Linked DNA regions of Homo sapiens. The protein of the gene in region 5 purifies or fractionates together with the protein of the main gene of each other region. This does not show direct contact. Each region holds a gene or a part of one and is shown on either strand. Other genes may lie near its edges.

The links.
Region 1: the proteins of SNRPA1 (region 5) and CDC40 purify together in Homo sapiens (affinity purification with mass spectrometry; 5 studies listed by BioGRID and IntAct, with this or other methods). This does not show direct contact.
Region 2: the proteins of SNRPA1 (region 5) and SNW1 purify together in Homo sapiens (affinity purification with mass spectrometry; 6 studies listed by BioGRID and IntAct, with this or other methods). This does not show direct contact.
Region 3: the proteins of SNRPA1 (region 5) and SF3A1 purify together in Homo sapiens (affinity purification with mass spectrometry; 8 studies listed by BioGRID and IntAct, with this or other methods). This does not show direct contact.
Region 4: the proteins of SNRPA1 (region 5) and SNRPD1 purify together in Homo sapiens (affinity purification with mass spectrometry; 6 studies listed by BioGRID and IntAct, with this or other methods). This does not show direct contact.
Region 6: the proteins of SNRPA1 (region 5) and RBM17 purify together in Homo sapiens (affinity purification with mass spectrometry; 5 studies listed by BioGRID and IntAct, with this or other methods). This does not show direct contact.
Region 7: the proteins of SNRPA1 (region 5) and SF3B4 purify together in Homo sapiens (affinity purification with mass spectrometry; 5 studies listed by BioGRID and IntAct, with this or other methods). This does not show direct contact.

The regions. Positions count from the first base shown.
Region 1 is NC_000006.12:110,228,634-110,232,498, forward strand, and holds the end of CDC40 (pre-mRNA-processing factor 17), read left to right. Parts: intron 1-198; coding exon 199-343; intron 344-1,320; coding exon 1,321-1,498; 3' UTR 1,499-3,599; downstream 3,600-3,865. UniProt on the Homo sapiens protein: Required for pre-mRNA splicing as component of the activated spliceosome. Plays an important role in embryonic brain development; this function does not require proline isomerization.
Region 2 is NC_000014.9:77,750,915-77,754,779, reverse strand, and holds part of SNW1 (SNW domain-containing protein 1), read left to right. Parts: intron 1-3,299; coding exon 3,300-3,461; intron 3,462-3,865. UniProt on the Homo sapiens protein: Involved in pre-mRNA splicing as component of the spliceosome. As a component of the minor spliceosome, involved in the splicing of U12-type introns in pre-mRNAs.
Region 3 is NC_000022.11:30,346,776-30,350,640, forward strand, and holds part of SF3A1 (splicing factor 3A subunit 1), read right to left. Parts: intron 1-3,865. UniProt on the Homo sapiens protein: Component of the 17S U2 SnRNP complex of the spliceosome, a large ribonucleoprotein complex that removes introns from transcribed pre-mRNAs.
Region 4 is NC_000018.10:21,622,115-21,625,979, forward strand, and holds part of SNRPD1 (small nuclear ribonucleoprotein Sm D1), read left to right. Parts: intron 1-610; coding exon 611-687; intron 688-1,633; coding exon 1,634-1,825; intron 1,826-3,865. UniProt on the Homo sapiens protein: Plays a role in pre-mRNA splicing as a core component of the spliceosomal U1, U2, U4 and U5 small nuclear ribonucleoproteins (snRNPs), the building blocks of the spliceosome.
Region 5 is NC_000015.10:101,280,967-101,285,570, reverse strand, and holds the end of SNRPA1 (U2 small nuclear ribonucleoprotein A'), read left to right. Parts: intron 1-510; coding exon 511-604; intron 605-3,788; coding exon 3,789-3,847; 3' UTR 3,848-4,061; downstream 4,062-4,604. UniProt on the Homo sapiens protein: Involved in pre-mRNA splicing as component of the spliceosome. Associated with sn-RNP U2, where it contributes to the binding of stem loop IV of U2 snRNA.
Region 6 is NC_000010.11:6,095,216-6,099,080, forward strand, and holds part of RBM17 (splicing factor 45), read left to right. Parts: intron 1-1,832; 5' UTR 1,833-1,850; coding exon 1,851-1,973; intron 1,974-3,865. UniProt on the Homo sapiens protein: Splice factor that binds to the single-stranded 3'AG at the exon/intron border and promotes its utilization in the second catalytic step. Involved in the regulation of alternative splicing and the utilization of cryptic splice sites.
Region 7 is NC_000001.11:149,924,749-149,929,201, forward strand, and holds the start of SF3B4 (splicing factor 3B subunit 4), read right to left. Parts: upstream 3,056-4,453; 5' UTR 3,012-3,055; coding exon 2,978-3,011; intron 2,547-2,977; coding exon 2,418-2,546; intron 2,171-2,417; coding exon 1,628-2,170; intron 1,295-1,627; coding exon 1,088-1,294; intron 1-1,087. Other genes in the region: MTMR11 (myotubularin-related protein 11), read right to left, coding at 4,381-4,453. UniProt on the Homo sapiens protein: Component of the 17S U2 SnRNP complex of the spliceosome, a large ribonucleoprotein complex that removes introns from transcribed pre-mRNAs.

The DNA.
Region 1 (3,865 bases), on a different chromosome or scaffold from region 5:
CCATTAGTTTATATATTAATACCTCTTGCCAGTGACATATTTATAACATTTTACAGGTGGTATAGTAAATTTATTTTTTAGTATTATAAAGTATTTGGGAGCAAAACTTATATTAATCACAGTGAACATATTTAAAATAAAAAGTTTTAAAAATTGTTTTAGTCTTCCTCTAAAATACCTCATTTATTGAATTTACAGGAAAATGGCTAGCATGCCAATCAATGGACAACCAAATCTTAATTTTTGGAGCACAGAACAGATTTAGATTAAATAAGAAAAAAATTTTTAAGGGCCATATGGTAGCAGGCTATGCTTGTCAGGTGGACTTTTCACCAGACATGAGGTAAGTTTAAATCTTCTAATCCATTCTCGTATTCAAATATGATTATATAAACTGTTGTTGTACAAATAACACTTGACACATCACTCTCACATAATATGTTTTTATGAGAACTCGATGATCTGTCAAAATTGTCAAAATGCTGGATATAAAGGCAAGAACAAATTAGGAAAATTACATTTTGCTTTTTTTAGGTTCTTGCTTCAGTATATTCCCTTCTATTACTTAGGCTTATGCCCTTTAGCCACCTAATAAATCCCTGTCTATATAACCAATGCCTTATTTTCTCTGCTTTTCTAAGCAAGACTAGAAGTGCTATAATCACTGTATTGCTATGATTGAATGAACACCAGAAGAATTAATTGTGTATTACAGTGTTGCAGTTACAGCTTCACTACAGCTTGTCTGTGCTGAAACCTCAAATCCAGCTTTTGAATATTTCTAGGTCACACTGGATTTGTGAAGCCTACAGCATGGTTCTTAGTTAAAATGTATAGGCAGAAGTAATTTAGAAATCCCAGTAACTTTGTTTGTTTAGCCTAGTAATTGGGCCTACCTCTGATTCAGTCTTAGATGTATTCAAAAGATATTAAAGCCAAAAAGTAATTATGAAAGTGTTAGAGCCTACTGTGATAGAATAGATCTAAAGGTGTTCCCTAGCTATATGTGGAATTGGTTCTCCAGTCTCTGTTTCTGACTATCTAGAGACTGATTGTGTAACCTCATTCACTGTGGCTCCTGGGACTCCCAGTCTTCCCAGTTAAAAATAATTTTCTACTCTTAGATTGGTTGGGAGGTTTTTTTAATAGAATTTCAAATTATAGACTGCTTCATGTTCTACCATCTTATTCTGAGTATTGTATATTTGCATTGGATTTTTTTTTTAATGTTAACGTGAAAAGATAACGTCCCTATTCCTCATTCGCCTTACCAATTTAAGGTATTTTAATAATTTGAATTTATCTTTCTTCCCATTATAGTTATGTGATTTCAGGAGATGGAAATGGAAAATTAAACATTTGGGACTGGAAGACCACAAAACTCTACAGTCGATTTAAAGCTCATGATAAAGTGTGTATAGGTGCAGTGTGGCATCCTCATGAAACTTCTAAGGTCATAACATGTGGTTGGGATGGTCTCATTAAATTGTGGGATTAATGAGATTAATCCTTAAACTAGCTGGGATCATTTTTGATCCATTGTCATATTTATATTTAATTATTAAATGTATCTGATGATAACTTGATTTACAGATAATGTTGATGACATTGACCCTTTGTTTAAAAAAAGAAACTGTAAATTTGACATAATTTCATTTGCAACTTCATTTTGTTTTTTATAAATGTTATTTATACAGAAAGTGGCTATTGACTTTCTATTTGACAAGTAGTTATAATTGGCAAGCAGTTTGAGTTTATACTCATGACATACTGAAAGCATCTCTTTGGGGTCAAGAAAGAATCCCTAGTGGATTTGGGATTCTAGAGGAGGTGTTATAATTAATTATTCAGAAAAATGCATGTATTTACCTCTTCAACCAAAAGGGCAGTAAAGAATAGGGATAATATATTTTAATGTAAATTTGGAAGAAGGATAAAATCACCCACAGTTACTCTCCCTATTATTTTCACTGGGTCAAGTTTTAATCTTTTGGCTTCATGAGTTCCACTCCCTTTGATGATATATGTTGTATATTTTTAGTTGTAAAGCAGTAATCTTTAACTGTAGCATTCCTCTAATTATAAACAGTGAAAAATCAAAATCAGTCCAGAGTTCTTTTGTTGACTTAATTCCTGATCAGTATAGACAGGACTATATATATTTAATCAGAGAATTACATTATATCTGAAGATGGAGCTCAGGAGAATGCACCAAGACTTTGAATTGTATTTACATTCACTGTCAGTAAAGACCTGGCTACGCTTTGAGAAATCAGGATCTCCTAGGTCATTGCTTCGCAGCTGTGATTACTGAAATCCTCCTCATAGGAGATAAAGTACGAGGGGTAGAGTCCAAGATGTCAACTTGTAATTTCTTTGAAGTCATATGTTTTATCTTTAAAATTATTCTTATTTTACCTGTGAATATATACAACAGAACTTTTTAAGATTAAAAAATTTTTAAACCTCTATGTCTGAAAAAAAAAATGACACTCCTGGAAGATGGCTAGGGTTCCCCAGTTTGAGAAGCAGTGGCCATGGTGAAAAATAGTTTTTGAAAACATCAGATTATAAAATCAAGATAGTCCGGACGCGGTGGCACATGCCTGTAATCCCAGCACTTTGGGAGGCTGAGGCAGGTGAATCACCTGAGGTCAGGAGTTCAAGACCAGCCTGGCCAACATAGTGAAACCCCGTCTCTACTAAAAACACAAAAATTAGCCAGGCTTGGTGGCTGGCGCCTGTAATTCCAGCTACTCAGAAGGCTGAGGCAGGGAGAATTGCTTGAACCCAGGAGTGGAGGTTGCAGTGAGCTGAGATCATGCCACTGCACTCCAGCCTGGGCGACAGAGCGAGACTCCACCTCAAAAAATAAAATCAAGATAACCTCTTGAATGTAATAGCTCATAGCACTTTAATTTGGCAAGCCATTTTTCCTGTTTTATTATAAATCTATATTAGATGTTTGAATATGGTTTGAAATATTTCACTACCGTGCTGAAAAAGGTTGGTTGATAGCAGCTTGGAGTGCTAACTGGAAGATCAAAATCATGTCTCTTGCTGATAACCTAAGAGCATTAAGCTCTGAGTCCAGTGAGGTCATAGCAGTGTATGCTCCTTGCCCTTACGGAGTGTCTGTTTTTAGAAATTTAGATTTTAAAAGGCGTGGGACATACGACCAGGCCCTATAGCCACATAAATATAAATTTCATAGAAAAAGAATAAAAGCGGAGATATATTTTTTGACACAGAGGCACCCAAAGAAATACAAACATTGCCTAGCTGCTGCCATTTCTGTAACTGCCCAGAAGGGTGACAGATTTCTGAAGGGGAAAGGATTCAGATATGACCTTTTCTTTAGTCCCAACCACTAGTTTTAACAAATGTGAATTATTGAAATGTGAAGGGACAAAAAGAATCATACATTTAAACTGTCTTGTTCAGCATACCAATATTGTATGTTACAAATCATCATTTCTAAATCTGGATTGATTCTGTTGTGTTTTTGACTGTTTCTAAAGTAAGTGTGTATAAAAGTCTCCTTTTTAAAAAGATCATATTTTTAAATAAAGCATTTTTTGTAGAAAGTGCTATCAAAATGTTCATCTTGTTCATCTTTAGTCTCCTTTTGAGTCTTAAGTGTATTGAGACACTAGATTAAGCCATTTGCAGTTTTAAATGGGTCATATGGAGAGAAATAATGCTTTAGAGGTGGATGTGGTTTATTCAGGTATATCAGTGGGTTTATAATTATATAATAAAATACATGGCAGTACCCTCAGAGCACATTAACACATTCCATATTCATTTAGTGGTGGCACTAAGTCATGACTACACAACATTTTAGAGTACATAAATGAGTGGG
Region 2 (3,865 bases), on a different chromosome or scaffold from region 5:
CACTGCTTTGTGGTCACTAGAGAACTGTACCATTTGTCTATTCCTATATCAAACTATTAAATATTTACAAGAAAACTAATATTTTATAAATTCAGGAATTACGGAAAATAATGGGAAAGTAAAAGATAAGAGAGATGAAAGTGGTTTTCATATTTGGGCTCCTCCTCCTCCTCCTCCCCTCCGATAATACCACATAACCCTGAAGAGACAACTTTCCTTCAGGGAAAACTCCAGTAGCACTTCCTTTGCTGATTTCTTTCTCTTCACCTGTTTTCTTACCTTTAATTTGAGAATGTTAATATATATCTGATATATAGATTAAATATATTTTTGCGGGTATAAGACAAAATTTGGTTGATTTGAAGGCAATGAGGGAGAAGGAACCATCTGGAATAGCTCTTTCTATCTCTAGCTTGTTGCCAAATAACAAGCTTCCGGTCGGGCGCAGTGGCTCACACCTGTAATCCCAGCACTTTGGGAGGCCAAGGCGGGCAGATCACCTGAGGCCAGGAGTTCGAGACCAGCCTGACCAACATGGAGCAACCCTGTCTCTACTAAAAATACAAAATTAGCCAGGTGTGGTGGCGCATGCCTGTAATCCCAGCTACTCCGGAGGCTGAGGCGGGAGAATTGCTTGAACCTGGGAGGCAGAGGTTGTGGTGAGCCAAGATCGCACCATTGCACTCCAGCCTGGGCAACAACAGCAAAACTCCATCTCAAAAAAAATAAAAAATAAAAATAAAAAGAACAAGCTTCCTTGGCAGCACCTATTCTAATTACTCAGGATCCTTTACATTAATTAATTAATTTTTATTTTTTTTATTTTTGGGATGGAATCTCGCTCCGTTTCCCAGGCTGGAGTGCAGTGGTGCGATCTTGGCTCACTGCAGCCTTCGCCTCCTGGGTTCAAGCGATTCTCCTGCCTCAGCCTCCCAAGTAGCCAGGATTACAGGCACGTGCCACCACATCCAGCTAATTTTTTGTATTTTTAGTACAGACAGGGTTTCACCATGTTTGCTAGGCTGGTCTTGAACTCCTGACTTCAGGTGATCCACCTGCCTCGGCCTCCTAAAGTGCTGGGATTACAGGTGTGAGCCACCGCGCCTGCCCCACACTCTTTATTAGAGTTTATAAGAGGAACACCCAACTAGATCATATCTTGTCCTATGTATTCCAAAAAACCCACATGTAGGTCTTTTTGTTGCTTTTTTGTCAGCTTTCCTCTGGTCCTTATGAATGCTGGTGTGTGAAGGCCAGTCATATTGCAATTATTAAGGGATTTTTGTTGCTTTTGTTCTCTCTGATAGTGTTATTTATGGGAGGCAGAGGAAGATGAAAGATTATCAAGGAGTCTTACCTGGGGCAAAAAAGTAGTGATTGGCATCATCTAATAGAGCAGTTGAGTGTCTCTGTTGAGGCATTATAAATATTGTTTGGTCTGTCAGTACATTGCACAATGAGGGTGACAGGCATCATCTTACATAGAATGTAAATCTCATCCATGCATTTCAGCATTACGATACTTGGTTGCTATTAGATTTTTAGATTCTTACTTGGCTATCAGTGGTTTCATATATCCTGGTGAAACAGAACAACTTATTTGAAAATCAAGTTGAAATGGCTAGCTAATCTGGAAATGCTATGGATGCTGCTTGAGGGGAGTGAATGTTCTGTGGAAGAAGGCATTTTGTTCTAGTTTTCAAAATAAAAGCTATGATTTTCTGGCAAGCTTAATGACCACATAATGCTACAGCTACAGTTCTGAAGTACTTATTATAGTTGAAAAACTCTAGCAAATCCAAGCATGTGTCAGATTGATGGCTTGGGTACGGGAAGCACTTATCTTAGGAATGCTTTAACTCTTTCTCATTTACAAGAAAATGTCTCTCAGCTTTATTCTCTTGGTTTTCAAAAACTTCAAACATCTCTTTAGCAAATAAGCATATTGTACTTAGGAACTCATATATCTTAGATCTAACGGAGTATTACTTAAAGAGGTCTTGTAAAAGTGAATATTTTCTTTTTTTTCCATCAAACCCCCTCTAAATGATTAATTTTAATTTGTGTTTTCTATTATTTCTTAATAGTACTCATTTGGCTGTTTTGAGCTAAAAGAAAGGTATTTCATAGTAGTAGAAAATACAAAGCTTTTCGGAGTCTCAAAAGATCTGGGTTCAGGTGCTGCATATAATACCTATGAGATCTCAGGAACACCGCTTAATTTTTCTAAGCCTGAATGTTTCCATTTAAAATGATGTTAAAGAGTTACAAGGATTAAATGAGATAATACATGTGTGAATCATGTTTAAAGTGTACTAAGCAAATACTACTGAATTTTTTTTAACTACTTAAAAATTATACTTGATCCTCATGTTTATTTGATAAACCTTTTTAAAATACTACATTTCATCAGCAAACTTTATTTAGCTTGTTCTACTTTAGCAGTCTCAGTTCTCTCTCCTAAATAATTATGTATAATCACTAGTAGAAATGTAGTAAACTCATTTCTGGATCCTTCCTATTGTATTCATTTGCTTCTCACATAACAATGAATAAATAATATGTTAATAAAATCTGATTCCAAGAAAAAATCTTTTATATTTCTGCCCCAAGTATAGCTTTACCTGTTCCTCACTAAAATATGTATTTATATGCTAAAATATATACACATATATTTTGCCTTGTCCTAGCCATTTTACTTAGTTTCGTCCTGCATATATGAAATCCACATTTTCTTGCTGTAGCATGTAAGTCCCTTTGTGATCTGGTGTTTTTTACTCATGTAACTTGTGCCTCAAGCTCTGCTGTCCTTATTAAGCTGTTAGCCCCACTGAATTCTCATTTCCTAAAATATACCAAGCTCATTCTTGCAGCAGGGCCTTTGCATTGGCTATTTGATCCATCTAGAAAATGCTTTGTGTGTGTGTGTGTGTGGTGTGTGTGTGTGTGTGTGTGTGTGTGTGTGTGTGTGTGTCTTCCCATGACTGCTTTCTAATCATTCAGGCTTTAGCTCACATGTTACTTCTTCACAAAGGCTGTCCCCAACCACCCTATCAAAAGTAGCCCCTTTTCCCAGTCTTTTTCTTTTATATTACCTTCATGGTACTTATCACAAGCCAAAGAATGTGTTTTTTATATCTTTGCCTACTAGAATGTAAACTCCACAAGAGGCAGGGAACTCTGCTGTATCTCTAGCATCTAGCATACTAAGGACTCAACAATTACTTGTTGAATGAATGAATATATCTTGAATGTCAAATGATGATTAACTATTTTATTTAACTACTTCTAATGTGTAGGATTTTGGAGATGGAGGTGCTTTTCCAGAGATCCATGTGGCCCAGTATCCACTGGATATGGGACGAAAGAAAAAAATGTCGAATGCGCTGGCCATTCAGGTGGATTCTGAAGGAAAAATTAAATATGATGCAATTGCTCGACAAGGACAGTCAAAAGACAAGGTAATCCTCTCATGTTTTCCCTGAATGATAAATATTTTAGGAAACATTTTAAATTTTGTGGACACGATAAATCTCTTGCTGTTTGAATTATGTTAAAAGTAGCAGTGGCTGGGCATGGTGGCTCGTACCTATATTCCCAGCTACTTGGGAGGCAGAGGTAGGAGGTTTGACTGAGCCCAAGAGTTTGAGGATACAGTGAGCCACTGCACTCTTGCTTGGGTGGCAATACCTTGTTTTAAAGGGGGAAAAAAGTACATTTTAAAACAGTTACTTTATATTACTAGCATTCTAAAACTGCCAGTAAATTTTTAAAAATCTGCAACCCCAGAGCCTTACCATCAACTTTTAATTTATCCTGTAGTTTCTTCTAGTTTTTTCCTATAGTCTTGACTCATTTCCTCCAT
Region 3 (3,865 bases), on a different chromosome or scaffold from region 5:
CCAAAACCATCTAGGCTATCGCTCATTTCTTTTAATAAAATTTACTTTAAAAAAAATCTATTTAAGATGGAGAATACATATTACTACTTCAAATAAAAAAAAATCAGTATGCCTTTACCAACAAAAGGTAGTCAAAAGTGAACATAATGAAAACAAAGTAATACTGTCAAAGTTTAGCTGGAAGTTTGCTGAGACTAATTCTCTTAGTTCAAAGGGGTAGCAAGTGCTGGAGAGGTGTAAAAGGTACATGAGCACCAAACCTAGACTTTGTCCTCTGAGTAACAAGAAAGACTGAAAGACATGAAAATTTAGTTGATTTGAGCCTGGGCAACAAGAAAAGACCCTAACTCTACAAAAAAATATAAAAATAAATTAACTGGGCATGGTGGTGTGTGCCTCTAGTCCCAGCTACTCAGGAGGCTGAGGTGGGAGGATCACTTGTGCCCAGGAGTCTGAGGCTGCAGTGGGCTAGAATCGTGTCACCGTATTCCAGCCTGGAAAACAGAGCAAGACCCTGTCTTTAAGAAACAAACAAACAAACAAAAAACAAATAGTTGGTTTAACGCCTTGTCCAAGTACTCCCTAAAACCACCCCCATTATACTGGTGAGGCCCACACAGGAAACATCCTCAGCAAAAACCCAGACTCGTACAGCTGTATAAGGCACCTTCAGATGACAGGGGTGTGGTAAGATCAGCAGGGAGGTCTCCAACCACTGTCTGTACCTGGGATGGTTCCCCAGATATGCCCCATGTCCCCAGCAAGCCTTCAAAACCTCAGGATAATGAAAAAATGTCCCTATAATGATGTTTAGGGAACCCTGATTTTTAAAATGTCCCAACAGTAATATTCAAAGTGCCACACTTATATACAACACCTGTGTCAGTCAGAAAGTACACGGACCTTAAAGACACAAGATATGAACACGTTCAAGTCTCAGGTTCACTGCTGACTCACTCTGACCCACAGCAAGTTACCAAACTACTCTTTGCTTCCATTTCCCCATGTGTAAAATGCAGCTAACACCAGTTTCCCTTTCTACCTTGAAACATTATTGAGGAGATGCCAAAGTGTTTTTGTTTTATAGACAGGGTCTCACTCTGTCACCCAGGCTGGAGTGCAGTGGTACAATCTCAGCTCACTGCAACCTCCACCTCCTGGGCTCAAGGGATCCTCCCACCTCAGCCTCCTGAGTAGCTGGGACTACAGGCATATACCACCATGCTCGGCTAATTTTTTTTTTACATTTTGTAGAGACGGGGTTTCACCATGTTGCTCAGGCTGGTCTCAAACTCCTGCGCTTAAGCGCCTTGGCCTCCCAAAGTGATAGGATTATAGGCGTGAGCCACTGAACCCAGCCCTCAAAGTCTTTTCAAATCGTACAGTGGCCTGCAAATGCAAGGGGCTAGGAGGGGTTGTTCCATAAACATTGTCTGTGGGGCCTTCCATTGCTCCTCTGGCGAGAACCTTGTACTTAGAACTGCCCCAAACACACCAAGGCATGGCCCCGGCATCTGGTGCCAGCTAGCCAGCTCCACTCTTCAGACTTTCATATCCCTGGCCTGTGAGTTTAAGAGGGGGTGGGAGCCCGGCACAGTGGCGCACACTTGTAGTCCCAGCTACTCAGGAGGCTGAGGCGAGAGGATCACTTGAGCCCAGAAGATCATACCCAAGCCTGGGCAACAAAATGAAATTTCACCTCTGAAAACAAAAATTTTTTAAATTTTTTTTAAGACAGATGGCAGGAGACAGGGTACAGGCAGTGCTGTGCCCCAGATCAACCACCACAGCAATTATGTGCCACACTAGTGATCGACACCCAGGCTGGCTCCTCAGCAAGTCGTGGTCATACCCTGCCGTGTAACTAACACCATGAGGTCTCAATTTGACAGTATATTAGTCTAACTGGAACCTCATGCTTTGGAAAAAAAATTCTCCCTACTCCTTAAATAATGCAAACCACACATAAGAATGAAGGTGAATGCACACTTAAATCCTGCTAAACTAGGCCACTATACCCAGCAAATGCCTCGGGCAGACAAAGGGCTCCTGGAAAAAGGGGCCCTGGTTGTCTCCTGTACCACTGCCTAAGCCATAACTTTACCCCATCTGGGAACAATCTGAAAAATAAAACAATGAGAAGGCTTGGCATGTTCATTCCAAGCTATTCAGTTGCTTTAAATTAGCTTAACGTTAATTTTAGAATCATACTCTCCACCAGAAGGAATAGATTTCAACAGAAAAAGACATGATTCTGACTCAACCCAGCTGGTGGGACTTTTTAAGGGTAATTTCCACTTCAGTTTCTTGACAGGAACATGCAGGAAATGAAAAGGCCTAACCTAGCGAAAAAACTTTTGGAAAACCGCTCAGTTGTGCATTTCTACTGCATGCTCCATAAATATACGTGAACCCAGGAGAAGTGAAGCACAGAGTTCTGCATGCCTGCTTTAACTCGGATATTGGTCTCTTTGTTGCAATGTAAACGATAAGTTCACAGATTTTATTTATTTATTTACTTTTGAGGCGGAGTCTCGCTCCGTCACCCAGGTGGGAGTGCAGTGGCACAATCTTGGCTCACTGCAACCTCTGCCTCCCGGGTTCAAACGATTCTTCTGCCTCAGCCTCCCAAGTAGCTGGGACTACAGGCGCCCGCCACCACACCTGGCTAATTTTTTGTATTTTTAGTAGAGACGAGGTTTCACTATGCTGGCCAGGCTGGTCTTGAACTCCTGACCTCAGGTGATCTGCCCACCTCAGTTTCCCAAAGTGCTGGGATTACAGGTGTAAGCCACCACACTGGCTCACAGATTTTAGAAATGCCTACAAAAGCAATCACCATAGCTAAAAATCAATCTAGGGATGTGCATGGTTTTGGATTTTTTTCTTTCTTTTTTTTTTTTTTTTTGAGATAGGGTCTTGCTCTATCGCCCCAGGCTGGAGTACGCTGGCATGATCATACCCTTGACCTCTCAGGCTCAAGTGATCCTCCCAAGTGGCTAGAAATACAGATATGCGCCACCATGCCCAGCTAATTTTTTTATTTTTTGTAGAGACAGGGGTCTCACTATATTGCCTACACTGGTGTCCAAGTCCTGGGTTCAAGCGATCCTCCCACCCTGGCCTCCCAAAGTGCTGGGATTACAGGCGTGAGCCACCTAACCTGGTCATATATATTTAAAGGGACCTTGGATATCCTCTTATTTCTTTAGCAGCAGAGGATGGCACAAAATTATTGGAAAGCTACTTGGCAAAATGTTTAAGAAATCTTTTAAGGATGCTCTTTTAGCCAATAATGAGCCACACAGAATTTTCTTCTAAGGAAACGATCTAAAAGGGAAAGAAAATGCTCAGAGATTTCCCCACAGCTTAATTTGCCAAAATGAAATGTTGGGAACAGGCCAGGTGCGGTGGTCACTGCCTGTAATCCCAGCCACCTTGTGGTGGCTGAGACATGAGGATCACTTGAGGCCAGGAGTTCAAGACCAACCTGAGCAACACAGAAAGACCCCATCTATACAAAAAAACTAAAAAAAATAAAAAAAATAAAAAAAAAATTAGCTGGGTGTGGTGGCAGGCACCTGTAGTCCTAGCTACTCAGGAAGCTGAGGTGGGAGGATAACTTGAGCCCAGGAGTTCAAGGCTGCAGTGAGCTGTTATCATGCCACTGCACTCCTGCCTGCGTGTCAGAACGAGACTCTGTCTCTAAAAAAGAAATGTTGGAAACCTCCTCCTCTAAGGAAAATACAGAAATGGTGGCCAAGTCAAGGAAAGCCTTTCACCTCTACATGGTGCATCCCCTTAATAAAGGACCACAGGGCATTATGAAGACCATGGAGCAAAATGGAAAAATGCTTACAACACA
Region 4 (3,865 bases), on a different chromosome or scaffold from region 5:
ATCTTTTTACCGACTGTAATTCTTTATTTCTTTTTTTTTTTTTGAGACGGAGTCTCGCTCTGTTGCCCAGGCTGGAGTGCAGTGGCGTGATCTCGGCTCACTGAGAGCTCTGCTTCCCAGGTTCACCCCATTCTCCTGCCTCAGCCTCCCGAGTAGCTGGGACTACAGGTGCCCGCCACCATGCCCAGCTAATTTTTTGTATTTTTTAGTAGAGACGGGGTTTCACCATGTTAGCCAGGATGATCTCGATCTCCTGACCTCGTGATCCGCCCGCCTTGGCCTCCCAAACTGCTGGAATTATAGGCGTGAGCCACCACGCCTGGCCTATTTCTTTTTCATGGTTTATAATGAGTCTAAGATCTTGTATGTCTGGATTTCAGGTTTGAGAATTAGAAACGTCCAAATGACAGTTTATGTTAGTATTGTTGTGTTCCTTCATAAAGGTTGAGGATATAATTCAGGAAAGCTGAAATTGTTATGCAGATTATTGATAGGAATTGATGCAGATAGCATCTAGCAAATTTTCAACATCGAGTTGTTTCACCCTTTCACCTTAATAAATGTGATTTTAAAGTGTTACAGGTAAAAATGGTTTTATTCCTATTTATAGATTTTTGATGAAATTGAGTCATGAAACTGTAACCATTGAATTGAAGAACGGAACACAGGTCCATGGAACAATCACAGGTACGGAGGTTGGACTGCTTTTATAACATTTTTTTTCTTCTCTTTTACCTAGCCAGAGTTTATTTTTTTATTGCTTAATGAACATTATTGTAGTACAAATCCTTATTTTTTTTGTCTGAATTATGTAATTTTTTTTTTTTTTTTTTAAACAGTTTTGCTCTGTCACCTGGGCCGGAGTGCAGTGGCACGATCTCAGCTCACTGCAACATCCGCCGCCTGGGGTCAAGCAATTCTCCTGTCTCAGCCTCCCAAGTAGCTGGGACTACAGGTGCCTGCCACCATGCCCGGGTAAATTTTTTTTTTAGACGGATTCTCACTCTGTTACCCAGGCTGGAGTGCAGTGGCACAATCTCAGGTCACTACAACCTCTGCCTCCCGGGTCCGGGTTGAAGCAATTCTCCTGCCTCAGCCTCCCAAGTAGCTGGGGTTATGGGTGCGTGCCACCACACCCAGCTAATTTTTTATATTTTTGGTAGAGACGGGGTTTCATCATGTTGGCCAGGTTGGTCTCGAACTCCTGACCTCATGATCCATCTTAACAAAAGCAGTAACAATTCTTATATACAGAGAGAAGCAGAAACAAAGGTGAGGATAGTTTGGTGGAATGGGGATTATGAGGAAGTTACAAAGACAGTGGGAGAAACATGAAAGAAATACCTGTCACATCAGTAGTGAGCCTAAAGCCCAGTCAGGGTTCTTCCATGGCTTGCTGCATTCACTTCTGTAAGCAAAACATTAGTGTGCTAGGAAAAATCTCTAGGAAGGAAACACTGCTGACATTCCCCCATTTACCAGTTGCACATGTGCTAAATTGTGTCATAGAAAACTTGCACTTTGTAGAAGAACAGTAATCTTTTGTAGTCCAGTATTTACTGTGGCTCAGTAGATTAATTAGTTGCCTTAACTTGTATCATACTAATAACTGCACAATTATTTTCCTCTTTAGGTGTGGATGTCAGCATGAATACACATCTTAAAGCTGTGAAAATGACCCTGAAGAACAGAGAACCTGTACAGCTGGAAACGCTGAGTATTCGAGGAAATAACATTCGGTATTTTATTCTACCAGACAGTTTACCTCTGGATACACTACTTGTGGATGTTGAACCTAAGGTGAAATCTAAGAAAAGGGAAGCTGGTAAGTTTGAAGGATTATAAACATTTTTGTGAATGCTAATCCTAATCCACACTATTCATAATATAGATATTATTTGCAAACAACACAAGTGTCTTTGTTGTTTAATATTTCCTATAGTATGTATAGTAATTCTTGGTGTTGCTATTAAAAACATTGAGCAACCGGACGCAGTGGCTCACGCCTATAATCCCAGCACTTTGGGAGGCCAAGGCGGGTGGATCACGAGGTCAGGAGTTCAAGACCAGCCTGGCCAACATGGTGAAGCCTCATCTCTACTAAAAATATAAAACTTAGCTGGGCATGGTGGCGGGTGCCTGTAATCCCAGCTACTCGGGAGGCTGAGGCAGGAGAATCGCTTGAACCCAGTAGGCGGAGGTTGCAGTGAGCCGAGATCTCACCACTGCACTCCAGCCTGGGTGACAGAGCCACTGTCTCAAAAAAAAAAAAAACCAAACAACAAATATCGATGTGGTCGGGCAGGGTGGCTCACACCTGTAATCCCAGCACTTTGGGAGGCCAAGGTGGGCAGATCACCTGAGGCCAGGAGTTCCAGACCAGCCTGGTCAACATGGCGAAACCCCCTCTCTACTAAAAATGCAAAAAAAATCAGGCGTGGTGGTGCGTGCCTTTAGTCCCAGTTACTCGGGAGGTTGAGGCAGACGAATCACTTGAACCTGGGAGGTGGAGGTTGCTGTGAGCCAAGATCACGCCACTGCACTCCAGCCTGGGCTACAGAGTGAGACTTTGTCTCAAAAAAAAAAAATATATATATATATATATGATTGTAATCCATAGCTTGAAAAACAATGATTTAATCTCTCTCTCGGTCCTTTATCTCATGCTGCTTTCCACTTTAAAAAAACCCCCTGTGGGTACCAAAATCTACAGATTCTTAAGTCCCTTTTCATAAAATGGTAGTAGTGTTTCAGTGCACATCCTTTTGTACCCTTTAAATCATCTCTAGATTACTTGTAATACCTAGTATAATGTAAATGCTCTGTAGATAGTTATACTGTATTGTTTAGGCGTTAATGACAAGAAAAAGTCTGTATGTGTTTAGTACAGATACAACCATCATAGGCCTAAACTACATTTTTGATCCTCAGTTGGTTAAATCCATGGATGTGCAACCCATGGATATTGAAGGCTGGCTGTATTTTCAAATCTGAGGATGTTTTGCTTTAATGTCGTTAGGGTTATTCTACATTTTTTTTTTTACTACCTACCTACCTGTCGGGGAATTGATGATTGAAAGCCCCCCGCCTCATATCATCTTACTCCACGCTTCTGAATCTTAGATTTTTCAGAAGTTATTCTTCCTTTACTAAATGTTACAGTTCCCAGTCTACTTTCTATTTAAAATTTTGTTGAAAAAAATTTTTTTTTTTTTTTTTGAGATGGAGTTTCGCTCTTGTTAGCCAAGCTGGAGTGCAGTGGCAGGATCTCAGCTCACTGCAACCTCTGCCTCCTGGGTTCAAGCGATTCTTCTGTTTCAGCCTCCCAAGTAGCTGGGATTATAGGTGTGTGCCACCACACCCAGCTAATTTTGTATTTTTAGTAGAGGTGGGGTTTCATCCTGTTGGTCAGGCTGGTCTCATACCCCTGACCTCAAGTGATCCACCCGCCTCGGCCTTCCAAAGTGCTGGGATTACAGGCAGGAACCACCGCGCCCAGCCGAAATCTTTTTTTGAGATGGACTCTCACTCTGTCGCCCAGGCTGGAGTGCAGTGGCGCGATCTCGGCTCACTGCAAGCTCCGCTTCCCGGGTTCACACCATTGTCCTGCCTCTGCCTCTCCAGTAGCTGGGACCACAGGCGCCTGCAACCACGCCCGGCTAATTTTTTGTATTTTTAGTAGAGACGGGGTTTCACCGTGTTAGCCAAGCGGTCTCGATCTCCTGACCTCATGATCCGCCTGCCTGGGCCTCCCTAAGTGCTGGGATTACAGGCGTGAGCCACGGTGCCTGGCCCAAAATCTTTTATCTACTGTGTTTTCTCTGCTTTTCTTTGTTCCTCTGGGTAGTTATCATTTTTGTTCCTT
Region 5 (4,604 bases):
TTATTATTTGATCAGACTTGAAATTACACAAGCTAATTAATGTGGAGGCAGCTTTGTCTTTCTCATTTTCCAAGGTGCATTTATCACTTCGAACAGTTACTTACCTTGGTATGCTGTCTCAGTGTTTGCCTTAATTTTTACTTTCGAAGATTTGCTGTCTGGCAAATCCTTTTGACTGATCAGTAGGGACCCTCGTTTTATAATATTGCCTCCTTAAATTATTCAGTAACATAATTGCAAATAGTTACTTCACTTAGCTACGATTTTAGAACATGTGGAGTGATTATTTATAAGAAGGCCTGCATCTCTTCACCAATTTTAGAAATTTGTGGTTTGGCTTCTAGTTTTATTTTTGTGGGCCAATAACATTCTTCCCCCTACACCAAAGTATTTAATGTTCCTGATGGAGAAGTTGCTGTGAATTTCTGTAGGTGATTGACACTTAGTTTTCTGGGTAGCTGATACTTGGTTGAAGTTAATCATCCATCTCCATTGCCCTCTGTCCTCCAGAATGCCATAGCAAATGCTTCAACTCTGGCTGAAGTGGAGAGGCTGAAGGGGTTGCTGCAGTCTGGTCAGATCCCTGGCAGAGAACGCAGATCAGGTGAACAAATGGTGTTCTTTGTATGTTCAAATTAATGTTACACTCAGAGTGTAACTCACAACCATTTAGATGCCATGACTCTGGAATGCCAGAGTAGTGCCTCCTTACATCAAATCTAATATATGAAATCTCTTTAAATGCTCTTTGAAGATAAAGTATTTGATGGGTTGGGTGCAGTGGCTCACGCCTGTAATCCCAGCACTTTGGGAGCCTGAGGCGGGCGGATCACCTGAGGTCAGGAGTTCGAGACCAGCCTGACCAACATGGAGAAACCCCATCTCTACTAAAAATACAAAATTAGCCGGGGGTGGTGGTGCGCGCCTGTAATCCCAGCTACTCGGGAGGCTGAGGCAGGAGAATCGCTTGAACCCGGGAGGTGGAGGTTGTGGTGAGCCGAGATCGCACTTTTGTACTCCAGCCTGGGCAACGAGCAAAACTGCAGCTCAAAAAAAAAAAAAAGGTATTTCATGAAGAAAGTTAAGTTACAGCACTGTGGGGGGTTTTATGTAAAAGTTGAAGCTAGAATTACTTCAGCCATGGAGTGCACCGAACACTAGCGATAGCCATGTGGACTTTTACCTATATATATTTGCGTGTGTGCATGATACCTCAGTAGTTAGGAACACAGGCTCTAGAGCCAAGCAGTCCGAGGCCCAAATCTCAGCTTCACCAGCTCTGCCTTTGGACAAGTTTCTTCAAGTCTTTCCTCATCTTTAAATCTGAGATAACAATAGTAGCAAACCTCAAAAGGTTGCCGAGAGGCTGAGAGACTGAACACAGCACAAGGCTCAACATTAGCGAGTTTTTGATAAGTGGTAACTGTTCTGACATCTGAATGCCTGCTTTATGCTAGGCTGCATGTGGGGCACTAGGGATATAAGATAAAAAGTACTGAAATACGTCTTACAAGTTTTGATATGAATGTAACTGGGGACAGCCACTCAGACTGCCGTCTTGGGGAAGTTTCCTAGGGAAATAATGTTTGAGCTGGGAGCTAAAAATTAAAAAGACATTTTTTTCCTTTTTGAGTCGGAGTTTTGCTCTTTTTGCCCAGGCTGGAGTGCAGTGGCGCGATCTCGGCTCACGCCAACCTCCGCCTCCCGGGTTCAAGCGATTCTCCTGCCTCAGCCTCCCAAGTAGCTGGGATTACAGGCACCTGCTACCGTGCCCGGCTAATTAATTTTTAGTAGAGACAGCGTTTCACCATGTTGGCCAGGATGGTCTCAATCTCTTGACCCCGTGATCCACCTGCCTCGTCTTCCCAAAGTGCTGGGATTACAGGCGTGAGCCCCGTGCCCAGCCAAAAAGAAATTTTTTAAGACCAGTAATTCTCTACTGTATGGTTTGTGGGCCTCTGGGAGTCTGTAAGGTGAAGACTGATTTTGTTGTTGTTGTTGTTTTGAGACGGAGTCTCGCTCTGTCGCCCAGGCTATAGGGCAGTGGTGCAATCTCACCTCACTGCAAGCTCCGCCTCCTGGGTTCATGCCATTCTTCTGCCCCAGCCTCCCGAGTAGCTGGGACTACAGGCGCCCGCCACCAAGCATGGCTAACTTTTTGTATTTTTTTTTTTTTTAGTAGAGACAGGGTTTCTACTAAAAACACATGTTAGCCAGGATGGTCTCGATCTCCTGACCTCATGATCCACCCGCCTTGGCCTCCCAAAGTGCTGGGATTACAGGCGTGAGCCACCGCGCCTGGCCGAAGACTGTTTTCATCTAATAACACCAAGGTGTTACTTGCTTTAGTATGAACATTTGCACTGATGGAGCAATAGTGGGTAGAACTGCGGGCACCTCAGTAGGAGTCAAGGCAGCAGCCTAAATAATAGCTGTTACATTCTTCCCTGCTCTGCACTCCCAGTAGCGTGCATACCAGTTTCACTTAAGAGTGTCCTGGATGCAGCAGTAAAGATAATTAAATATCACTCCTCGGGCACACGTCTCTTTGATATTCTGGGTGACAGAAAGGGGGTGCACATGTCTGCATTCTTGAGTTAGGTGGTTATCTCCATGCACTGGTGCAGTTGTTTCAGTTGAGAGGCAGCTACCTGTCTTCTCAAACATGATGAAGTGAGCCTGTCACTTCAGGGAAAACAATTGAAAATTCAAGGTTTAAAGCAAAAATTAAAATTTAGAAAACTTGTATCCACTGCCGTAACCTGCCAGCTTCCCAGTACTTTAAGACTTTTCTGGGGAACTCAATAGTAATGTTATGTGCATGTGAATTAATGGGTGTGACATTTTTGATGTGTAATTACATGGCTCAACGTTTGGAAGATCTGCAAAAGTCGGTGAACCACAGTTTTCCAAATGATACGAAATCATGTACGGGTAAAAGATTTGTTCAAAGTACAAGATAAACCAAGTAAGAGTATGAAAAGTTCATTGATAAGGTTTCAGACTTTTACACTGCCATCTAACCTTGAGGAAGCTACCATTTGTCAAGTTTTAGCATAGTATCTAAAAAGAGCATCCACCATTATCTGCACAGGCTGTTAAAATCTTCCTCCCTTTTCTAACTGTGTGCCTGTGTGGCCAGATTTTCTTCATGCCCGTCAATCAAAATGCCGTATTGCACAGGATGGAATGATGAAACCAATACAATAATTCAGCTGACTGATGTTAAGTCAGACATTAAGTCAACAATAACAATTGTTTCCCAAACAATTGAAGGAGTTACAACTTTTTTTTCCCCCTGGAATACATTGAGCAAAATACCTGCCATAAATTGTTGAACAAATGTAACATTTTTTGGTAGTTGTTGGCATATTTCCCTAATTTAGAGACAATAAAGTCATTGAACTGTTGCCAGTATATGGCATGTAGTAGGTGCCCAGATGTTTTTGAGTATTTCCGGTTTCTTTGCCTACGGTAGTGCCATGAAAAGCACATGAGTATAGGCTTTACCTTCACCAAAAATGAATTATTATCAACTACAATGGGAGGCAACAATTTTGAAATCTTTGTGACCCTTTTCCTTTGAAATTGAGCATCCCTTCCAGTACCTGCCAAAGACAGACTAGACCGTCCCTGGACGATAAGCTCCTCAAAGGCAGGTGCTGCTTTTGATCTTTTTGTACCTACTTCAGTGTGTAACAAACAGTGGCCACAGAACAAACACTTGCATGCTAAGGGAATGGATTCTCTAAAATTGATACTACTTTTGCTTTGGTGGTTTTCTTTAGGGCCCACTGATGATGGTGAAGAAGAGATGGAAGAAGACACAGTCACAAACGGGTCCTGAGCAGTGAGGCAGATGTATAATAATAGGCCCTCTTGGAACAAGTCTTGCTTTTCGAACATGGTATAATAGCCTTGTTTGTGTTAGCAAAGTGGAATCTATCAGCATTGTTGAAATGCTTAAGACTGCTGCTGATAATTTTGTAATATAAGTTTTGAAATCTAAATGTCAATTTTCTACAAATTATAAAAATAAACTCCACTCACTATGCTACCAAGTTGTGTGTCATCATGGTGCATTTGCAGTGAGGTCTAAGGACACGTTGAAATTGGAAATGCAGGAGGGCAGCGTTTTCTCGGTAGGCTTCCTGGGCTGGATTAGCGTCTGGCTCCTGCAGTGTCATGACACATGCCAGGAAGGCCGCCTTTTCCACTCCCACATAGCCCTTCTGTTAGTGCAGACTTACCTGTCGCTCCGGCTTCTGATAGGACAACTGAAATGATTCCATTTTTGAAATTGATTGGTGTGTCCCACCAAACCTGGCTATGTTTTTTGTTTTTTTCTCCCCCGCCCCCAGGCTGGTCTCCAACTCTGGCTTCAAGTGATCCTCCCGCCTTGGCCTCCCAAGGGAGTACAGGCCTGAGCCACCATACCCAGCCTTTAGTTTTATATATGTACATAGTTAACATAAAGGTCATATGGAGAGTCTACAAGAACATTTGTTGAAAGGGGCGTAAGTTACTCATATTTGAAGAACACTACTGTTTCATTGCCATCTCTCTGATCCCCCTTAGCCACGACAGTCTTAATCCCATCTTGT
Region 6 (3,865 bases), on a different chromosome or scaffold from region 5:
TCTTTTCTTTTTTTTTTGGCGGAGTCTTTATCTGTCACCCAGGCTGGAGTGCAGTGGTGTGATCTTGGCTCACTGCAACATCCATCTCCCGGGTTCAGGCGATTATCATGCCTCACCCTCCGGAGTAGCTGGGATTACAGGCACCCACCACCACGCCCAGCTAATTTTTGTATTTTTAATAGAGACAGGTTTTCACCGTGTTGGCCAGGCTGATCTCTTAACTCCTGACCTCAAGTGATCCGCCCACCTATGCCTCCCAAAGTGCTGGGATTACAGGCGTGAGCCACCGTGCCTGACCATCCCTTCATTCTTATGTGATTCATTTGAGCAGTCGGCCATCAATACCCCTGGACAGTCTGCTTTCCCTGCTTCTCTACGGCCTTGCGGGGACCTTTCATTTAAAAATCAAAATGGAGAGGTTTTAGTTAATTTGAGGGTTCACGTATGAAGGAATGGAAGAAACTAAAAAGTGGTGACAGTTTTCTGGGGTGCTGACTTCAGGCAGGGAGTTACTGTACTTAAGACCAGGGCAGTTCTTCTGAGGGAACAGAAGTTGGTGTGCACTCCGTCCCCCACTCCACACAGTGTGGTACCAACATCAGCGAAGGTGTTGGGGCGGCAGGGTCTTAGAATCCCTGTAATGGGGGAGCTGAGAAGTAAGAGTACCTTCAAGAGAAATGCTTGCCGAATCAGACCTAAGGAGGGTATGTGTTAAATATTTTCCTCCTCTCCTGAGCCACAGAACACAAGCAAATTAGGCTTTTCAATAACACGGTTTCCATGGGAAAATGCTTTATGGGCCCCCTGGGAACTGACAGACTTATTTGTCCATAAACTGGGAACTACTGTGCTAAGCATTTACTTGCAATTTGTGGGTTTCTGTTTAAATTAAGTTCTCTTTCTGTCTGTGAGATTGATTTCTTATTTGAAGAAGTAAGCTATGTTGGTGGGTTTCAGAATGTTGATTTTTTTTTTAAAAAGTGGCAGTTGGGGTTCACTGGCGAGGGCTCTGGAGTTGGCCTGGCTGGGTTGGAAGGGGCTTCCGCTGTGGCCTTGGGCAGATTGATTCCCTAAACCCCAGCATCCATGTCTGTGCAGTGCTGGGCTTTCATGGGACCTGCTGCCGATGCTGCATTGCATGTCATGCTTTGCGCCTGCTGACTCGGTTTTTGTTTCCACGTGTTCCTCTGTTCTGCACGGAAGCTGTGTGTTGCTCGTTCACATGCAGATTGTTGATTGTCTCTTTGTAATCACTATCATTAAAGATGACAGATTTCCACTTGGTGTGATATGAGGAAATCAGAGTATTTAAGATGTAACCAGTCTACTCCCCCCTTGATAATTGTAATTGACAAAATCACATCTAAGAGATCATTTCTGTCATTTTTTTCCCTAGGAGTACGTTTAAATTTTTTCTTTATAAAAGGGTAGCTAATTGTGCTACATCAACCTGCTAATTGGTGTTTTTGTAAAGCTTCTACTTTTTGGCACTGACATAAATAGAATTTTTTAAAAATTGGATATATGTAATTAATAATGTTCCAATTCTTACCTCATTATGTGCCCTAGCATTGAAGGATTTCACTCATGGATCACTTGACTGCATGATCTTATAGATGGAAAAATGAATTTTAGAGGCTTATTTTAAAAATAATCCATGGTCTAGCTTCATGTATCAGGAATAGCCCTACATTAATGGTACCAGGAGCCTGGGCCTCTGTTGCTGAAAGGTCCTGGACCTTTTACCTCTAAAATTTCATGATACTTATTTTAACATGAAAAGCCTTTATTGAATTGTGCATTCTTTAATCCCCACCCCTTTTGCCTTTCAGCATTAAACTGAAGAAAAGATGTCCCTGTACGATGACCTAGGAGTGGAGACCAGTGACTCAAAAACAGAAGGCTGGTCCAAAAACTTCAAACTTCTGCAGTCTCAGCTTCAGGTGAAGAAGGCAGCTCTCACTCAGGCAAAGGTAAAGACAAGCCCAGAGCATGAGAGCAGAGGCCTCCAGAGTGGGTTCCTCATTAGGATGACAAGGAATTTGGTTTCAGCTTGCTCTTCTGCCTTTGTATTGGGTAAATGGTGTTAAGCATTTGTAGGGGGAGAGGAATGAGGAGTTTAAGGCCACTTTGCTACTCCTGGCTCCTGGGAATAGGAACATTTCGTGGGGTAGGAATGAAGAAAAACAGTACTCTGCGGGGGCTGGGCGCAGTGGCTCACGCCTGTAATCCCAGCATTTTGGGAGGCCAAGGCAGGCAGATCACGAGGTCAGGAGATCCAGACCATCCTGGCTAACAAGGTGAAACACCGCGGGCGCAGTGGTGGGCACCTGTACTGCCAGCTACTCGGGAGGCTGAGGCAGGAGAATGGCGTGAACCCGGGAGGCAGAGCTTGCAGTGAGCCGAGATCGCGCCACTGCGCTCCAGCCTGAGCGACAGAGCAAGACTCCGATTCAAAAACAAACAAACAAACAAACAAAAAAACAGTACTCTGAACCAGCAGTGACACTGCTTTTCAAACTTAAGTAGTGGAGGTCTAAGATTGAGTGAGAACTTGTTTAAGGTGCTAATTTTGTAGCCTTACTCCTGATATTCTGGTAAACTGTAGTTCAGGCTGGAGCCCCAGGAGTGGGAATTTTTAAGTAGCATTCCTACTGGTTTGGTGGAGGTAGTTTGGAAGCAGCACTTTGGGAAGAAGCTCCACAGAATACCTAAGCTGCTGCGTGCAACTTATTGAGGGCTCAGGTTGATTGTGAAGGCGTCAGGCATAGGTAGTCTGGATGCTGATTGCTTTTGTTTCTGTTGTGTACATGTTGGGTATTGGCAATGTCCTTGAAATAACATGTAAAACATTAAAAACCTAGTTGTCGACTGGATATTTGCCATTAAAATGTAGGCATGAGAATGGTATTATGGTTTGTTTACTACTTTAGAGATCTTTATGTTCTAGAGTATGCATTCGTAATGGAGGCTATATCCCCCCAAACAGAGCGAATATTGGTCTTTTTGGGGGTGAAAAAACCTTGCTCGTGTTGTGCACAGTGTATCTGTGGTGTGAAAATTTCATGTGCGGGAGAAAATTTAGTCAAAGGCTCCTTGCTGGGGAGGCAGTAATTAAAGTTGAGAAAAAGTACTTTAGAGATGTGTACTGAAATATTTACCGATAAGATGATGTCATTTTTGGGATTTACTTCTAAACAATTCAGTCCCGGGCAGGGGAGGGAGGGAAGAACAGAACTACCCATGAGTTGATAATTGTTGAAACTGGATGTGGATAGTAGAGACTTAAGAATTAATATTAATCTCTAATTTCATGTTTGAAAATTTCCGTAATACACAGGTTTTTTGTTTTTTTTTTTTTTTTTTTTTTTTTTTTTTGAGACGTAGTCTCACTTTGTAGCCCAGGCTGGAGCGCAGTGGCATGATCTCAGCTCACTGCAAGCTCCGCCTCCCAGGTTCACGCCATTCTCCTGTCTCAGCCTCCTGAGTAACTGGGACTACAGGCGCCCACCACTGCGCCTGCGGTGTTTCACCTTGTAAGCCAGGATGGTCTCGATTTCCTGACCTCGTGATCCGCCTGCCTTGGTCTCCCAAAGTGCTGGGATTACAGGCGTGAGCCACCGTGTCCGGCCAATACACAGGTTTTTTTTCTTAAAAGTTCTACTCATTTTTCTTTTCCCTTTACCACATCAATAGATACTTACATGGAAGTGCTTACATTTGATTGTTCAGTATTGTAGAGAGGTTTTTTTGTGTTTTTAAAATTCATCATTACCAAATTTAGATTTTTTGGATGCCAGTATTTTGTGTTTTTTTTAAAACAAGGTTTCATTCCAAATGTAAGGAGGGTTAGCAAAACCTCGTT
Region 7 (4,453 bases), on a different chromosome or scaffold from region 5:
TGCAAGTCACAGGTGTGGCAAACAGCACAGTATGTTCCAGGAAATGCCAGTTAACTCAGTAATCAGGAGCAAAATGCAGTTATAGAAATGAGGGGCAGGGGCCAGATCATAAAGAGCTGTGAATGCTATGGTAATGAGTTTGGGTTTTACTCTGTAGGTCAAAGGGAGCAACAGAGGAATTCTGAGCAAGTGTGTGCACATCTGTGTCTTAAAAGACCTACACTGTGAAAGTAGATCAAAGTTAGGGAAAACTGGAGTCAAAGTGGCAAGAGATTACTACAACAAATTAAGTGTAAAATAATGAGGCAATGAGAGACTGAACTAGGGCACTGGCCATGGGGAGAGATGCCACTGATACAAATAAGACTTGGTATTAAGAGTGGGGTGATAGGGAGCAGTCAAACATAGCTCTCAGATTCATGAATTAAGCACCTGAAAAAAAAGAACACTAGAAGAAGAATGGATTTGAAGGAGAGGGATAGAAAAATGACGCTATCTATTAAGCAGCAGCATCAAGGATCTGGAATATCAACAGCTACGGACTAGAGATACAGACCTAGGAGGCATCAGTATATACCCAATTAAAACTATAGATATATGCAGAAAAGAGAAACAAGCACAAAAATCTAGGCACAAGTAGACATGAGTCTATCACGGTAGCTGAGATTAAGAAGTCAGAGAGAGGGGTGGAGGATCTAGAAAAGCAAAAGCAAAAAGAGACAAGAATTTCAAACAGGAGGACACAACTAGTTTCAAGTATATCAGAGGTCAAACTAGATAAGGAGCAGAAGCGTCCCCGAGATTTGGCAATTAGGTCACCACTTTGAGGTGGAGTCAGAGAAGAGAATGGAACTAAAGATTAAAGAAATAAAAACTGGCAAGTAGAGTCTACTTGTCAGAAAAACTTAAGAAATGGATTCAGGGTGGTAGATGTTAGAGAGCATTTTGTATGTTTTTATAATAGAATGTCTGAAGGAAAGGAAAACTCTGAAACTGTTACTGTTGAGGAACAAAGGGCAGCAGGGTGAGTGGTAACAGAGATGCTCTACCAAGCTCTTCCCTCCCTTTCCCAACAAAGCACACCTACCTGGATGGGGCATCCCACCCGGTGGGAATGGGTGAGGATGTGAGTGTCCATGACCAGGATGTCCTGCCCCTGGGGTTCCTGCCGATGGGGGGCCATGTCCTGCAGCCCCAGGAGGCATAGGTGGTGGGGGCATGGCTGGGGGTATCCCAGGTGGGAGGGCTCCAGGAGGTGGCACTGGGGGTGGGAAGGAGCCAGGAGGAGGCATGCCTATAGAGGAAATGGAAAAAGGAAGAGTTAATGGTAGTGAGGAGAAAATGTCTTTAAAGAGCCTGTCCTGATCTGGCCTCTCCAGGCAGGGTGAGCTCTTTCCCCCTCCTCCCAGTGCTCTAAAATCAAAAGCAATGTTAGAAAAGTCAACCAACTTCACCCTCCTAAAGAAACCCAACAACTTTCTTCTTCACCACTACCATCACCCCTCAGTCCTCTTCCCATCAACTCACTGACTCAATGTCCCCTGTCCCCCTTTCAGACTTGTTTTCTTCTTCCTCCTGACCCTCTCCCCCAACCTTAAGACAAACATATTTTAACCAAAAGCTTTACCTGGTGGAGGAAGCCCAGACCCCAATGATGATACCACAGGATTGGGAGCAGAGGGTGGAGGAGGTGCATCTGCAAACAGCTGATGAGGGCGATCAGCCTGGGAGAGCGGGTTCTGAGCTGCCAGAAGTCGTTCGGCTGCTGAGCCATGGCGCTCACCCTTGGAGTCCTTCTTGAAGGCATAAGATACGGTGATAGGACGGTTACAGAGGTACTGCCCATTCATGGCTTCAATTGCTGCATCCGAAGCATCAAATGAAGCAAAATTAATAAAGGCATAACCTTTGGAGTTGCCTGTGTCAGGGTCCCGCATAATTTTGGGGGTTTGTAAGATGACCCCAAAGGCGCTGAAAGTATCATAAAGCAACTTCTCATCAATCTCAGGGTCCAGGTTCCCAATGAAAATGTTGGCCCCTACATCCAGGTTTTTGTTGTGAGCTGATGCTTTGTTCACCCGTATTGGCTTCCCATAGAGTTTGATCATGTTCATGATCTTAATGGCATAGTCAGCATCTTCCTCACTCAAGAATTCCACAAAGCCATAGCCTGGAAAAGTGGAGAAGAGGAGGTTAACAACGTAAGTAAAGAGACTGAAAATGGGGTAAAATTCATCTACCCTCTAATCACAAAGAACAAGAAAGAAACAACATCACTTTACTTAAGAATGGTTCCAGAAATAAACTGAAGAGAGGCTTAAAAGAAAAAAATCTTTAGGTTGCTCATGTTATTCCAAAACAGTTGTGAATACTGCTGGGACCCTCCGGGAGCAATTCGCCCCTTGTCATGTACTCACCTTGGTGCTGGCCAGTGACTCTATCCTTTGGCATGTGGGTGTTGACTACTGGTCCAGCCTGGAGAAACAGTTCCCACAGCAGCGGTTCACTAACCTTCTCATCCAGGCCCCCCACGTACACAGTGGCATCTTGAAGGGAGGGAGCAAAAAGAGCAAGCGTGAGAGTGTAACGGGAAGGAAGGAAGTGATGGAAACATGAAGATGGAACCCAACCAGGGGAACTGGGGACCGCGGTAGGGGACAGGAGCAAAAAAAAAAGTTTAAACCCTTAAACTTCTCTCTTCCCAGGACTTCGGGAATCCTCTGAAGTCTAATTTAGTATTGTGAGTGGGTTTTTTTGATTTTTTGAGTGAGAAGTCAGCAGGGGACCGGACTTAAGTATCACACCCAGAGGCCTCAGCCAGCACCCGGCCACCCCGCCCCCAACAGGCAGAGGGCCGGTCTCGCGCCCTCTGGGGAAGGGAGGAGTCCAGTCTCCCACCCCTGCAGAGACACTGCTGGCTGTAGTCGGGGCCTCCTAGCCACGCTGAGCCCATTCCAGACTTTCCCCCTCCAGTTACCCTGATTCCGCTCGGAGATCGGCCCGGCAGCCATGGCGAAAGAGATCCCGCCGTCTCCCAGCAGCGGTTCCGCCTTCTGACCTCAGCACGACTTCCACTTCCGGGGCGAAGACGGACGTAGCGGTGGGCGGGGCCGCGGAAGAGGAGGTGCCTGGAAGCGGCTGCAGCCATCTTAGGAGCCTCCGAAACTTAACCTGGGTCGGGCGGTAGAGTCCTCGGCTCGCGTCCTGAGGTGCCGCTGCTAGTTGTCTTAGCGAGGAGGGCGGAACGGAAACGCTCAGGCCCTCTTAATGCACTGCTAGACTTGAAAGAATCACACTGCTCTCAAAAGTGTAAATTCGAAAGCTAAAAGAACAAAAATTTCAGTTTTAATATATTTTGTGGACAGTGATTCTTCTTCTGTTGTCCAGAGAAGGATGTGCTGAAGAGTTCCCCCCAACCCGAGGACTTGGGGGCTTTCAGGCGCAGAGGGAGCCTTCCCTCTCGCCTGCAGCCTTCTTGCAGATTTGGCCTCACAACCCTGATTTGGGCTGGAGGTATTTGGTTTTCCCTCAGGGGAGGAGACTGCGAAATGTCTGAGCTTAGAGTGACGTCTGCGCTCACCTCGTCCTAATTGCATGGGGAGGGTGAGGGCTGCTCCGCGTTGGTGTGTGACCACAGCTGAGGGGTGGATGGGATCGGAGCTCTAGAGTCTGGATCTCTAGAACACTCTGGCCCCATCTGCCTCTAAATGGGAGACACACACAAGAGAACCCTTTCCCCAAATTGCACTTGAATTTTGCAGAGCCTCACCAAACCCAGTTCCCCTATTTCCTTAGCAATAATATGGTGGATGCCTTCCTCTCTTGGGTCATACACCCCTTTTACCCACCACTTTCCTACCTAGGAGAATCCTTTATTCAAACACAAGAAACAATGCCAGCAATGTGTATAAATACTATGCTTTAATGAGCCCCTTAAATAGAAATTCCACTACAAAAATACAGAGGAGATAGGGTGTTTCCTGTATCCGCCTCATTCCCATAGAAAACTATAAGGGAAGAAATAGAACTTGGAATTAAAGCAGCAGCAAGGCGAGGTGAGAATGCGATTTCTAGGCCATCTTGTTGGGACTGATGAACAGCATCTCTGATCTCATGATTTAACATCTGGTTATCCAGAAGGGATGGGATTGGCCTAAAAAAACCGATCAATTTCTGGATTGTTTTTGTTTCTTAATCCTTCAAATGACAAGAAGCAAAAATATTTGTAGAAACTAAGCAAGACAAGAGTTGGAGCAGTTAACACCACTATCTGCAGCAGAAACTCAGACCTTCTTAGTGAACTTAAGGGCTGAAGTGTGAAAGCTGAGGCTGCAAGTGCAGATACAAAAAAAAAAAAAAAAGATTAGACAGAACCCTCCTCTACCCCAGATCCCCCTCTGCCCTGCCTTTGAGAATGCCAGCAATTTCAGTGGGATTGAGAATGGTATGTGGA